4 separate regions of the Homo sapiens genome follow, and all the other regions are linked to region 4. The links come from fine-mapping of genetic effects on gene expression. A gene starts in region 4. Each other region holds a variant in brackets. All regions are shown on one strand. Distances are from middle to middle.

What was found.
Region 1: its variant is fine-mapped to the expression of PNPLA7 in whole blood (TOPMed, PIP 0.91).
Region 2: its variant is fine-mapped to the expression of PNPLA7 in whole blood (INTERVAL, PIP 0.95).
Region 3: its variant is fine-mapped to the expression of PNPLA7 in blood mononuclear cells (TOPMed, PIP 0.94).

What each region holds. Positions count from the first base shown.
Region 1 is chr9:137,570,733-137,573,469 of GRCh38, forward strand. The region is part of intron 5 of DPH7 (diphthamide biosynthesis 7); the gene reads right to left. Among named protein-coding and RNA genes, the nearest start is that of DPH7, 6.8 kb to the right of the region's middle. The variant G/A (reference allele first, on the strand shown) is at 1,339.
Region 2 is chr9:137,393,585-137,396,321 of GRCh38, forward strand. EXD3 (exonuclease 3'-5' domain containing 3) reads right to left here. Exons shown (of 22, transcript NM_017820.5): 2 at 1,719-1,820. The coding sequence starts at 1,773. Among named protein-coding and RNA genes, the nearest start is that of EXD3, 28 kb to the right of the region's middle. The variant A/C (reference allele first, on the strand shown) is at 1,660.
Region 3 is chr9:137,797,138-137,799,874 of GRCh38, forward strand. It overlaps EHMT1 (euchromatic histone lysine methyltransferase 1), which reads left to right. Exons shown (of 27, transcript NM_024757.5): 17 at 1,676-1,777. Among named protein-coding and RNA genes, the nearest start is that of MIR602, 40 kb to the right of the region's middle. The variant G/A (reference allele first, on the strand shown) is at 1,421.
Region 4 is chr9:137,549,420-137,551,919 of GRCh38, forward strand. PNPLA7 (patatin like domain 7, lysophospholipase) reads right to left here and starts at 983. Exons shown (of 35, transcript NM_001098537.3): 1 at 749-983. The coding sequence starts at 778. MRPL41 (mitochondrial ribosomal protein L41) reads left to right here and starts at 2,460. Exons shown (of 2, transcript NM_032477.3): 1 at 2,460-2,500. RefSeq lists an enhancer at 92-593 and a silencer at 1,782-2,500.

The DNA of each region.
Region 1 (2,737 bases), 21 kb after region 4:
ACCATGCTGGCTACTGGCTACTCTTCTGCCATAGCAGGGCCACTCCTGCCTTAGGACCACTGCCCACCCTGACCATGCTCTCCAACAGTATAATCTGCACCTGCTCCCAGCACCCTTGGTCCCCTCTCACCTCCTTCTACCTTCTTTCCAAAGCACTCATTGCCCCTGACAGGCCATGCAGTCTCCTTCCCTATTACATATTATGCCTTGTGTTTACTGTCTGTCTCCCCGCCACAGAATGTAAGCTGGGTGAAAGCAGGGACTTTTATGTGAAAATCAGCCAGGTGTGGTAACTCACACCTGTAGTCCCAGCTACTCAGAAGGCTGAGGCAGGAGGATCGCTTGACCCTGGGAGGTTAAGGCTGCCGTGACCTGTGGTCACGCCATTGCACTCCAGCTTGGGTGACACAGCAAGACGTGAACCACCCACCCCATCCTCAAAATGTATTTATATAAATAAATTTTTTTTTTTTGAGACAGAGCCTTGCTCTCTCGCCAGGCTGGAGTGCAGTGGTGCGATCTCGGCTCACTGCAACCTCTGCCTCCCGGGTTCAAGCAATTCCACTGTCTCAGCCTCCCGAGTAGTTGGGACTACAGGCGCCTGCCACCATGCCCGGCTAATTTTTTGTATTTTAATAGAGATGGGGTTTCACCATGTTGGCCAGGATGGTCTTGATCTGCTGACCTCATGATCCGCCCATCTTGGCCTCCTAAAGTGCTGGGATTACAGGTGTGAGCCACCGCGCCTGGCCTATATAAATAATTTTTTTAAGAAGGCTGAGTGCAGTGGCTGACGCCTATAATCCCAACACTGGGAGGCTGAGGCAGGTAGATCGCTTGAGCCTAGGCATTCGAGACCAGCCTGGGCAACATGGTAAAACCGCATCTCTACTAAAAATACAAAAATTAGCCGGGCATGGCGGCAGGTGCCTATAATCCCAATTACTCAGGAGGCTGAGGCAGGAGAATCACTTGAACCCAGGAGGTGGAGGTTGCAATGAGCCAAGATTGTACCACTGCCCTCCAGCCTGGGCAATAAGAGCGAAACTCCATCTCAAAATAAATAAATAAATAAAAATAATAAAACTTAAAAAAGAAAGCAGGACTTTTGTCTGTTTAGTTTGCTAAAGTATTCTAATCACCTAGAATAGGGCTCAGCACATAGCATTTGTTGAAAGAATGAATCAGTCCAGAATTATTCAATCATTGCCCTACGGTACCTTTGCTCTGAATTAGCTCAAGGTAGAAGAACCAACCCAAGGAGAGACCTCAAGAAATGAGATCTTTATGGCTCTCAGACGGTTCAAGGCTGTGACAATGAGCAACACAAATAAGAAC[G/A]CCGCCTTACACACGTGCTCGTCACTCGGACAAGCAGAGGCAGCGTGAGCCACGGCGGAGGTGAGGCCTGCCTGGGGTGGAAGGACAGCTGCTCTGCGTCAGTCTTCTAAGGACAAGATTTTAAGCTGGGCATGTCAAAAAAGCAGAATTCACCCATGAAGGAAACATCCCGTGACGAAACCCTGAGACTGAGGGAATGTGGACTATTTCAGGAAAAGGTGACTGAGAGCATAGGAGCCAAAACAAGGCCGGAGAAGCAGGCGTGGACCAGATTCCACAGGCCTTGGGTAATCGCATCACTATTTTGGATTTTATCCTCAATGAAACAGGAACTGTGAGGGGTTCTAACAATGAGTGAGATGCGATAAAGTGTGTGTGTTTTTAAAACACTTGCTTGGCTACTGTGTGGAGACTGGAACAGTCAGGAATGAAGGCAGGGCCATCACTTGCTGCTCTGCTGTAACAAACTAGATGAGACAGTGGCCCGGATGGGTAGCAGCAGGGAAGGGTCAGATCTTTTCTTCGGCTGTTTGCAAATTCAGCAGCTCCTCTTCTGTCTTTTCTCAGAGACCCGCCCCTCTCACCTGCCATGAGTTATCTCTACCTGGGAAAGAGATGCTAGCCAAAGCTACCTCCTTCCTGGAAACACCAGTTGTTAATTTCTCACTCCCACATCAGCATGCCCCAAATGCAAACCATTCACAAGACCTGGAAAGGAATCTTATTTCTCTCATGCTTCCTTTATTTCTGGAAGATAAACTATATCCAAAAAGGGTGCAGACAAACTTGAAATCCAACATGGCGAAGTCACTATTGTATCCACAGGTATCAGGCAAAAAGCACAGAAACTGGACTTCCAGTAAAAGCATAAAGGATCTGACACCGAGCATATCAGGGAGGCAGGATGGCTCTGCCCACAGGTGCCTGCTCCTCCAACACCCTGGCCAACACCACCCAAGACCCTGCACTGCCTGAGGCAAGCTATACTTTGCTCTCTAAAGAATAAGTGGGCGGGGCAAGGTGGCTCACGCCTGTAATCCCAGCACTTTGGGAGGCCGAGGCGAGTGGATCACGAGGTCAGGAGATCAAGACCACCCTGGCTAACACAGTGAAACCCCGTCTCTACTAAAAATACAAAAAATTAGCCGGGCGTGGTGGCGGGCACCTGTAGTCCCAGTTACTCGGGAGGCTGAGGCAGGAGAATGGCGTGAACCTGGGAGGCGGAGCTTGCAGTGAGCCGAGATCGCGCCACTGCACTCCAGCCTAGGCAACAGAGCAAGACTCCATCTCAAAAAAAAAAAAAAAAAAAAAAAGAATAGCTAAGTGGGCCGGGTGCAGTGGCTCACACCTGTAATCCCAGCACTTTGGGAGGCCGAGGCGGGAGGATCACGAGGTCAGG
Region 2 (2,737 bases), 160 kb before region 4:
CAGCCCTCAGCACCCACTGGGACACAGAAGAGGAAGGCAGAGAGGAAGCCCCTGGAGGGGTCCAAGGCCCGAGGAGGCAACTGCGTGGGATAGGGAAACTGAGGCAGAGAGCCTCAGCTGCTGCCATGTGGGAGCAGGGCTTTCACAGAGGGGAGGGCCATGGCCCTGCCCCATGGAGGGGCTGCCAGGCAGGGCATGTGTAGGGTGGAACTGGGCAAAGGCCAGGGGGCGGTGAGTGAAAAGGCAGTAAACCCACAACAAACTGAGGGCCTGCAGCCCAGGGCGAGGCGGCTGGGCCAGGGCCTTACAGCTCTCACTGCTGTTTACAAGGACTGCAGGGTGAAGGATGTGAAGGGGCCCCGGCACCCCCTTCTCACCCTCTGCCCACAAAGCCATGGCCCCGGACAGCTCCCACTGGGGCCGAGCCCCTGCCAGGAGGCTTCCCGCCCCAGCCCGTCCCCGGCACAGAGAGCAGCTGAGGCTCGGGCTGACCCCTCTGGCACTAGGCAGCTCCACTCCTTCCCAGCCGCCGCTTCCCTAACCCCAGCCTCCCAGCCTCCATTTCCCTAACCCTGGCCTCCCAGCCTCTGCTTCCCTAACCCCAGCCTCCCAGCCTCCGCTTCCCTAACCCCGGCCTCCCAGCCTCCGCTTCCCTAACCCCGGCCTCCCAGCCTCCGCTTCCCTAACCCCGGCCTCCCAGCCTCCGCTTCCCTAACCCCGGCCTCCCAGCCTCCGCTTCCCTAACCCCGGCCTCCCAGCCTCCGCTTCCCTAACCCCGGCCTCCCAGCCTCCGCTTCCCTAACCCCGGCCTCCCAGCCTCCGCTTCCCTAACCCCGGCCTCCCAGCCTCCGCTTCCCTAAGCCCGGCCTCCCAGCCTCCGCTTCCCTAACCCCGGCCTCCCAGCCTCCGCTTCCCTAACCCCGGCCTCCCAGCCTCCGCTTCCCTAACCCCGGCCTCCCAGCCTCCGCTTCCCTAATCCCGGCCTTCCAGCCTCCGCTTCCCTAACCCTGGCCCAGTCTTCAGCTTGCAGGGTCTCGATCTGTAGGAACAGGAGGGAGAGAGGCTGCACCTCCCCTCGGGCTGTTTATCCTCAGCACTGAATCTGGCAGGGCAGCCGAGCGAGCGGGGATGCGGCCTCCCCGGCTTTGCCCACAGGGAAGGTGCCTCTCATTTCTCTTTTTTAACCTGAAAAAGCTGCTGGGAGGGCAGATGTTCTTCTTAACTCGAAGGGATGAAAAATGCCTCAGTTTAAAAAACTAGGGACCCTGGAGGCCACCCTGGAACCGCCCGAGACCCAAGAGGCTGTGGGTTCCCTGAGCCCCCAGTGGCGGCGCTAAGCCCCCAAGGGTGTTCCGGGCCCTCCGCCTGGCTCCCCGAGGGACAGAGGGGACCAGAGCTCCCACCTCTGCGGCCAGCCCTGAGCAGCTGCACTGTCCCCGCCACCTCCCCCGGATCCTGTCACAGGCCCGGCGCCAGGCCACCCACGCTGGGGCCCAAGGAGGCGGCCTGTCCTGACCCCCGAGGACAACAAGGCCACAGTGGGGCCTCCGGACTCACAAGGTCCCAAGCCGTGGACACTGTAGAGAGGCCCGCAGCTAGGGGCCAGCAGCCTGGCCCTCGTCACTGAGTACACAGTGGGCGCCACCACCCCCCATGCAC[A/C]CCCACGCACCTCCCCCCACAGCCCCAGGGAGACTCGGCACCATCAGGCTCAGACTCACCCATGCGGTGGCGCTCGCCAGCGGCAGGGTCACCAGCGGGATCTCCTGGGTCCATCCTCAGGGCCGGGCCGAGGACGCTGGCAGGCAGCTAGGAACGAGGATCTGCAGAAACAGACAATCAGGTGAATGCAGAGCCCACTGCAACAGGCAGCCATGCAGAGCCCACGCCCACAGCCCCTGGAGGTGGTGGAGGGAGCTGGTGCCTGGGGGGGCCCAAGTGGGACCCCCAGTCGCTGAGCATAGCGGGCAGCTCCACACTCCTCTCCCAGCTGGGGTGACGGCTGCCAAGTTTGGACCCTGCATTCCAGTTCCCTGCCAAACCGTCCCAGCTTTCAGCAGGGAGGGCAGGGGGTGGGAGGGGCCCTGGGGGGGGGCACAGTAGACAGACCCTCGCGGGAGTGCAGAGGGGCCTGTTCTTGAGGACAGCGTGACCCCCCTTGCCATGTCCCCCTCAGGCTGTGTGTCCTGCCCTGAGGGAGCCACATGGGAGAGAGGTGCTCTCCTCCAGAGGGCAAGGGCGCCTGCAGGACCAGGGACCTCGGAGTGACGCCCTCACGGCTGACCCAGTACGCAGCTCCGTAAGACTCCAGGCGGCCGCTGACAGCTCTCATCCCAGGCAGACCTCAGTCTCCCTCAGAGTGTTTTTTTTTCTTTTCTTTCTTTCTTTCTTTTTTTTTTTTTTGGAGACAGAGTCTCTCTGCAATGCCCAGGCTGGAGTGCAGTGGGGCCATCTCAGCTCACTGCAACCTCCGCCTTCCGGGTTCAAGCGATTCTCCTGCCTCAGCCTCCCGAGTAGCTGGGATGACAGGCATGCGCCATCACGCCTGGCTAATTTTTGTATTTTTAGTGGAGATGGGGTTTCCCCATGTTGGTCAGGCTGGTATCGAACTCCTGACCTCAGGTGATCCACCCGCCTCAGCCTCCCAAAGTGCTGGGACTACAGGCGTGAGCCACCGCGCCTGGCCCCTGGGAGTGTTTTTGATGCAAAACCCTTATCTACACTTACGAGGGTCACCCTT
Region 3 (2,737 bases), 250 kb after region 4:
AGACAGGCGCTGTGTGGGGTGTCCCTTGGGTGGGGGTGGGCTCCAGTGTCTTGAGCTTCTGTTTGTGTGCCTGCAGACCTCACAGCTAGCTGCTGTCACTGAACCCGACAGAAGCCTTTCCTTACCTGCAGCCCCGCTCTTTGCCACCTTCACGTCTATTCCCACGGGGTTCCTTTGGCTGACTCTCAATCCCCTCACCCCACCACTCTGCCGCTCCCAGCCCTGCCCTCCTCCTGCCTGGTGTCTTGCTCTTGTGACAGCTGGCTTCCTTCACTAAGCTTCCTTTGCTGGCGTCTGTCTCTCACCTGCTTGATTCAGAAGTGCTTGCCCAAGGTCTCTGCCAGGTGCACCTGCTTCTGTCCTGAATTCTGTGACAGTCTGCCAGCAGTTAGGAGATTGTCAGCTGCACTATTCCAGCGATTAAAGACACTTGAAAATTAAGGCAGACCTTTAACAACCATGCATCATTTTGTATTCATAATAAAATTACAATTCTGAACACTAGCCGTGTGGGAACCGGGTGTGCTGGCTTTCCTTGAGGAAGGTGAGCATGCTGATTTAGCCCCAGGTAGGGGAGCAGTATGTGCAGTGATGCCTGCGAAACTCTATGACTGCTACACGGACTCCACCGAGATAAGGGGAGAAAGGTAATGAAGGAACATGGTTAAGTGGAGACAGGAACAGGGGAGCAAAGCAAAGCAAACACCTGAAGGGAGACGGTGGTGGAGTGCGTCTGCGGGCCTGTGTGAGGAGCACAGGCAGGAAGAACCCTGTGTAAGGCGTGTGGATGGCACAGCGGTGTGGGCGGCACCGGCTCCCCTGCCTCTTCTGGAGCTTCCTGGGTCTGACCTCCAACCTTGCATGTCTTTGTTTTCCTTTGAGATGGTTTGATAGGTGTGATCTATTTGGTCTCCTCAGGGAAACAGAGCTGAAAGGAAATGAGAGGGTGTTCCCAATCTGGGCATGGTGGCTCATGCCTGTAATCCCAGCACTGTAATCCCAGTTACGATGCCTACGACTCCCAGACCAAAGTGGGAGGATTGCTTGGGGTCAGGAGTTCAAAAACAGCCTAGGCAGTGTAGCAAGACCCTGTCTCTAGGAAAGAAAAAAGTACATTAGCCAGTCATGGTGGTGCACACCTGTAGTCCCAGCTACGTGGGAGGCTGAGGCAGGAGGATCACTTGAGCATGGGAATCAGAGGCTGTGGTGAGCTGTGATCGCACCACTGCACTCCAGCCTGGGCGATACAGCAAGACCCCATCTCAAAAAGGAGAGAAAGAAAAAAAAAACAAGATGTGCCCAGCAGCAAAGGAAGCAAGAGGAGGGCAGAGTCCCTGGCGTTTCCGGAGCCGTGGGGTGGGCCTGGCGCTCTTTGTGTTCCCACTTTTTGCCATCTATTATTTTAAGTTCTGTGGTACAC[G/A]GACAACTATTGCTGAATCATTGACGGTGTCTTCACTGTGCCAGGCGACTGACCACTCATGGGGCCACAGGGGGCTGCACACAGCGCTTGGACCTCGGCTGTTCCCTCGGCCTCAGCCTGGGTTTCCTTGTCATTTGAGCAGGACAGTACCCCACCCGCATGGTAGACACCGGGTTCTCCTGGATCCCGCACTCAGGGCTGGCACACCAGGATCACAGGTATGGATTCTTTGACTAAGTGGCATTTCTGTTGCAGGACGCAGAGGGCTCTACGTGTTTGCACCTGGCTGCCAAGAAAGGCCACTACGAAGTGGTCCAGTACCTGCTTTCAAATGGACAGATGGACGTCAACTGTCAGGTACAGCCACCCCCTCCCCTTAGCAGTACACTGTGTGGACTGGCTACGGAAACTCACTGTTCTGCAGCTCCTGGTCCCACCCCCATTCTCCATGGCGTCCCCTCCCACGCACAGAGCCAGCTCGGGCCCTCCAGCGTCCTCTTCCACACTTAGGGCCAGCTCGGACCCTCCACAGCGTCCCATCCCACACACAGAGCCAGCTCGGGCCCTCCAGCGTCCTCTTCCACACTCAGGGCCAGCTCGGACCCTCCACGGCATCGCCTTCCACACACAGGGTTAGCTCAAGCCCTTGGGCCCTGGAGTGCCTTGTCCCCTCCCTGTCCCCTTCTTCCCTGGCCTGCTGTGAATGCTCACAGCAGGGCAGGCTCTGCACTGTGTCTGGCTGGAGGCTCCTCCCTTGCTCTCCATCAGCTGTGTCTAGGTATTACCATTTGAGGGAGGTGTCACTAGCCTCCCTCCTTGGCACCCGTCTTCCTTCCTGCTCATTGTCCGTCTCTGCCCCACAGCCAGCGCCACGGGGCAGGGTTTGCCATGCATGTGTGCTGAACCGCGGCGCCTCACACACAGGGGCCACCTGCCTCACGAGTGAATGACTGGGGAGATCAAAGAAGGGCAGGCTTTGAGGCTGCTCAGCTCAGCATGCACTGGGAGTCCCTCCTGCATGGATTGAGGCTGCTCACCATGCACTGGGGGTCCCTCCTGCATGGACCCACAGCTCTGGGATAAGTGCCATCCTCACGCTCGCTCTCACTCCTTCCTTCAGGAGGCTTGGTCCGAGTCTTTTTAGCCCAGTGGTTGCCCACCCAGTTGTTGACGCCCAGCTTCTGTGCCCTCTTGGCTGTGGCAGCGTCCCCATGGGCTGGAAGCAGCAGCGTCTGTGATATGCTCAAAGGCCCATACTCTCGCCTTTGCCCTGAGCGCCCAGAGGTCGGAGCCCCGCCTGGTCCCTGCATCTGAAGC
Region 4 (2,500 bases):
ATTAGCCGGGCGTGGTGGTGGGCGCCTGTAGTCCCAGCTACTTGGGAGGCCGAGGCAGGAGAATGGCGTGAACCTGGGAGGCAGAGCTTGCAGTGAGTTGAGATCGTGCCACTGCAATCCAGCTTGGGCGACAGAGCAAGACTCCGTCTCAAAAAAAAAAAAAAAAAAAGTTCAAGACCAGCCTGGCCAACATGGCGAAACCCCGTTTCTACTAAGAATACAAAAATTAGCCGGGCGTGGTGCCTGTAGTCCCAGCTACCCGGGAGGCTGAGGCAGAATTGCCTGAACCCAGGAGGCGGAGGTTGCTGTGAGCCAAGATCACACCATTGCACACCAGCCTGGGCGACAGAGCGAGACTCCGTCTTGGGAAAAAAAAAAACACAGAAAAAGGTTCTAAGCAAAACCATCAGGCAAAGTCCTAAAGGAACTGGAAGTAGCAACTGTGACCTTAGGGGAAGAAAAGACAAGGCCTCAGGCAATGCCCATGGGCCACCGCTGGCTGCCCTCGCTGTGAACAATGCCCATGGGCCACCACTGGCTGTCTGCTGTGACAGGCGCGTCTAACAAGTGCTGGCAGCTGTGACAGGCAGCAGAGAGGGGCCAGATCCACCACTCCCACAGTCCTCAGGCGCCAAGAAGCCACGGGGCCAAAGAGCGCGGCAGAGCAGACGCCAAGAGGACCCTTCTCTGGGTCCAGAAATGCCCCCCAACTGGGAAATCCAGGCATCTGGTCCCCCGAGTTACATACCTGTGGGCTGTCATCTTTCTCTTCCTCCATGGCCAGAAACAGAAAAAACAGTCAGGGGCGAAAAGCAGACAGCCTGAAGCAAACAAGGGCACACCTCTACCCGCTCATGCTCACACCTGGACACTTTTCCCTGGGTTCCTTTCAAGTCAAATTATGTTTCACTGAAAGGAAAATCCTGCTGAAAAAGTCTGTTCTCCAGGAAGAAAAGCTGTCTTTTGAGAAGTGTCTGTCATCTGCTAGGAGCCACCTCCTTCCCTCTGTAAACAGCCCTCACGTGGCTGTCCCGGAACCCAGAACAGCAGCCAGATGGGGCGTATCCAAGCAGGTCAAGAGGAGCCAGGCCCAGCGCGGCGGGGATGGGGGCAGCGCTGCCTTCTGGAGAAGCACGGCTGGAGGGGAGGTGACGCTGGCGGGGCGTGGATCCGGGGTGTGGGGATGCAGCTGGGGAGGAGGGTGCAGCTGGGGAGGGGGTGGATCCGGCGTGTAGGGGTACCGCTGGGGAGTGGGTGCAGCTGGGGAGGGGGTGGATCTGGGGTGTGGGGGTGCCGCTGGGGAGTGGGTGCAGCTGGGGAGGGGGTGGATCCGGCGTGTAGGGGTACCGCTGGGGAGTGGGTGCAGCTGGGGAGGGGGTGGATCTGGGGTGTGGGGGTACTGCTGGGGAGAGGGTGCAGCTGGGGAGCGCGTGGATCCGGCGAGTGGGGGTACCGCTAGGGAGGGGGTGCAGCTGGGGAGGGGGTGGATCTGGGGTGTGGGGGTGCCGCTGGGGAGGGGGTGCAGCTGGGGAGGGGGTGGATCTGGGGCGTGGGGGTGCCGCTGGGGAGGGGGTGCAGCTGGGGAGGGGGTGGATCTGGGGCGTGGGGGTGCCGCTGGGGAGGGGGTGCAGCTGGGGAGGGGATGGATCTGGGGTGTGGGGGTACCGCTGGGGAAGGGCGTGCAGCTGGAGAGGGGATGGATCTGGGCTGTGGGGGTGCCGCTGGGGACGGGGTGCAGCTGGGGAGGGGGTGGATCCGGATTGTGAGGGTGCGGCTGGGGGGCGACTTCCGCGTGGGGTGAGAGGTCGCCTGCGAGGGTGACCGGGCAGGAGGGCTCAGTGCGCAAGCCGGACGTGCTGGGTCCAAGATTATTGATTAATTTGGGCACCGCGAGGGCTCGAGTCCCCCCACACCACTGCCCGGCCTGCGGGGGAGCACAGACAGCCCGGGCCCTCCCGGCTGCAGGTCCCGGGCTTTCCCCGCGCGGTTGCCGGCTCCGCCCAGAGGAGCCGCGCCCGGCGGAGGGGTAAGAAAGGCAGGGTCGCGGCGTCAACGCGGCGGCCGTCTCGAGTCCAGGGCCCGCGTCCTCCCCGACCTCCCGACGCCACCTCACGGCCTCAGGGGGACTGGGCTCCCGGGAAACCGCCGGCCACCTGGCGGACGAACACAGGCAGTGGCGGGCAGTGGAGACGCCAGGGACCACCGCGCTGAGAGCGATCACTCATCCGCCAGCCCCGCCCCGCGAGCCCCGCCCCGCGAGCCCCGCCCCGCGAGCCCCGCCCCGCGAGCCCCGCCCCGCGAGCCCCGCCCCGCGAGCCCCGCACCGCCGGCCCCGCACCGCCAGCCCCGCGAGCCCCGCCCCGCCCCGCGCGCTCCTCGCATTGGCCGAGTCCCCGCGGCCACACCCCCTACCAGATTGGGGCCGCTATTGGACGCGGCGGCCGCGGCCAATCGGAGCCGCTCTTGCTGCGACGCAGCGGTCGGAAGCGGAGCAAGGTCG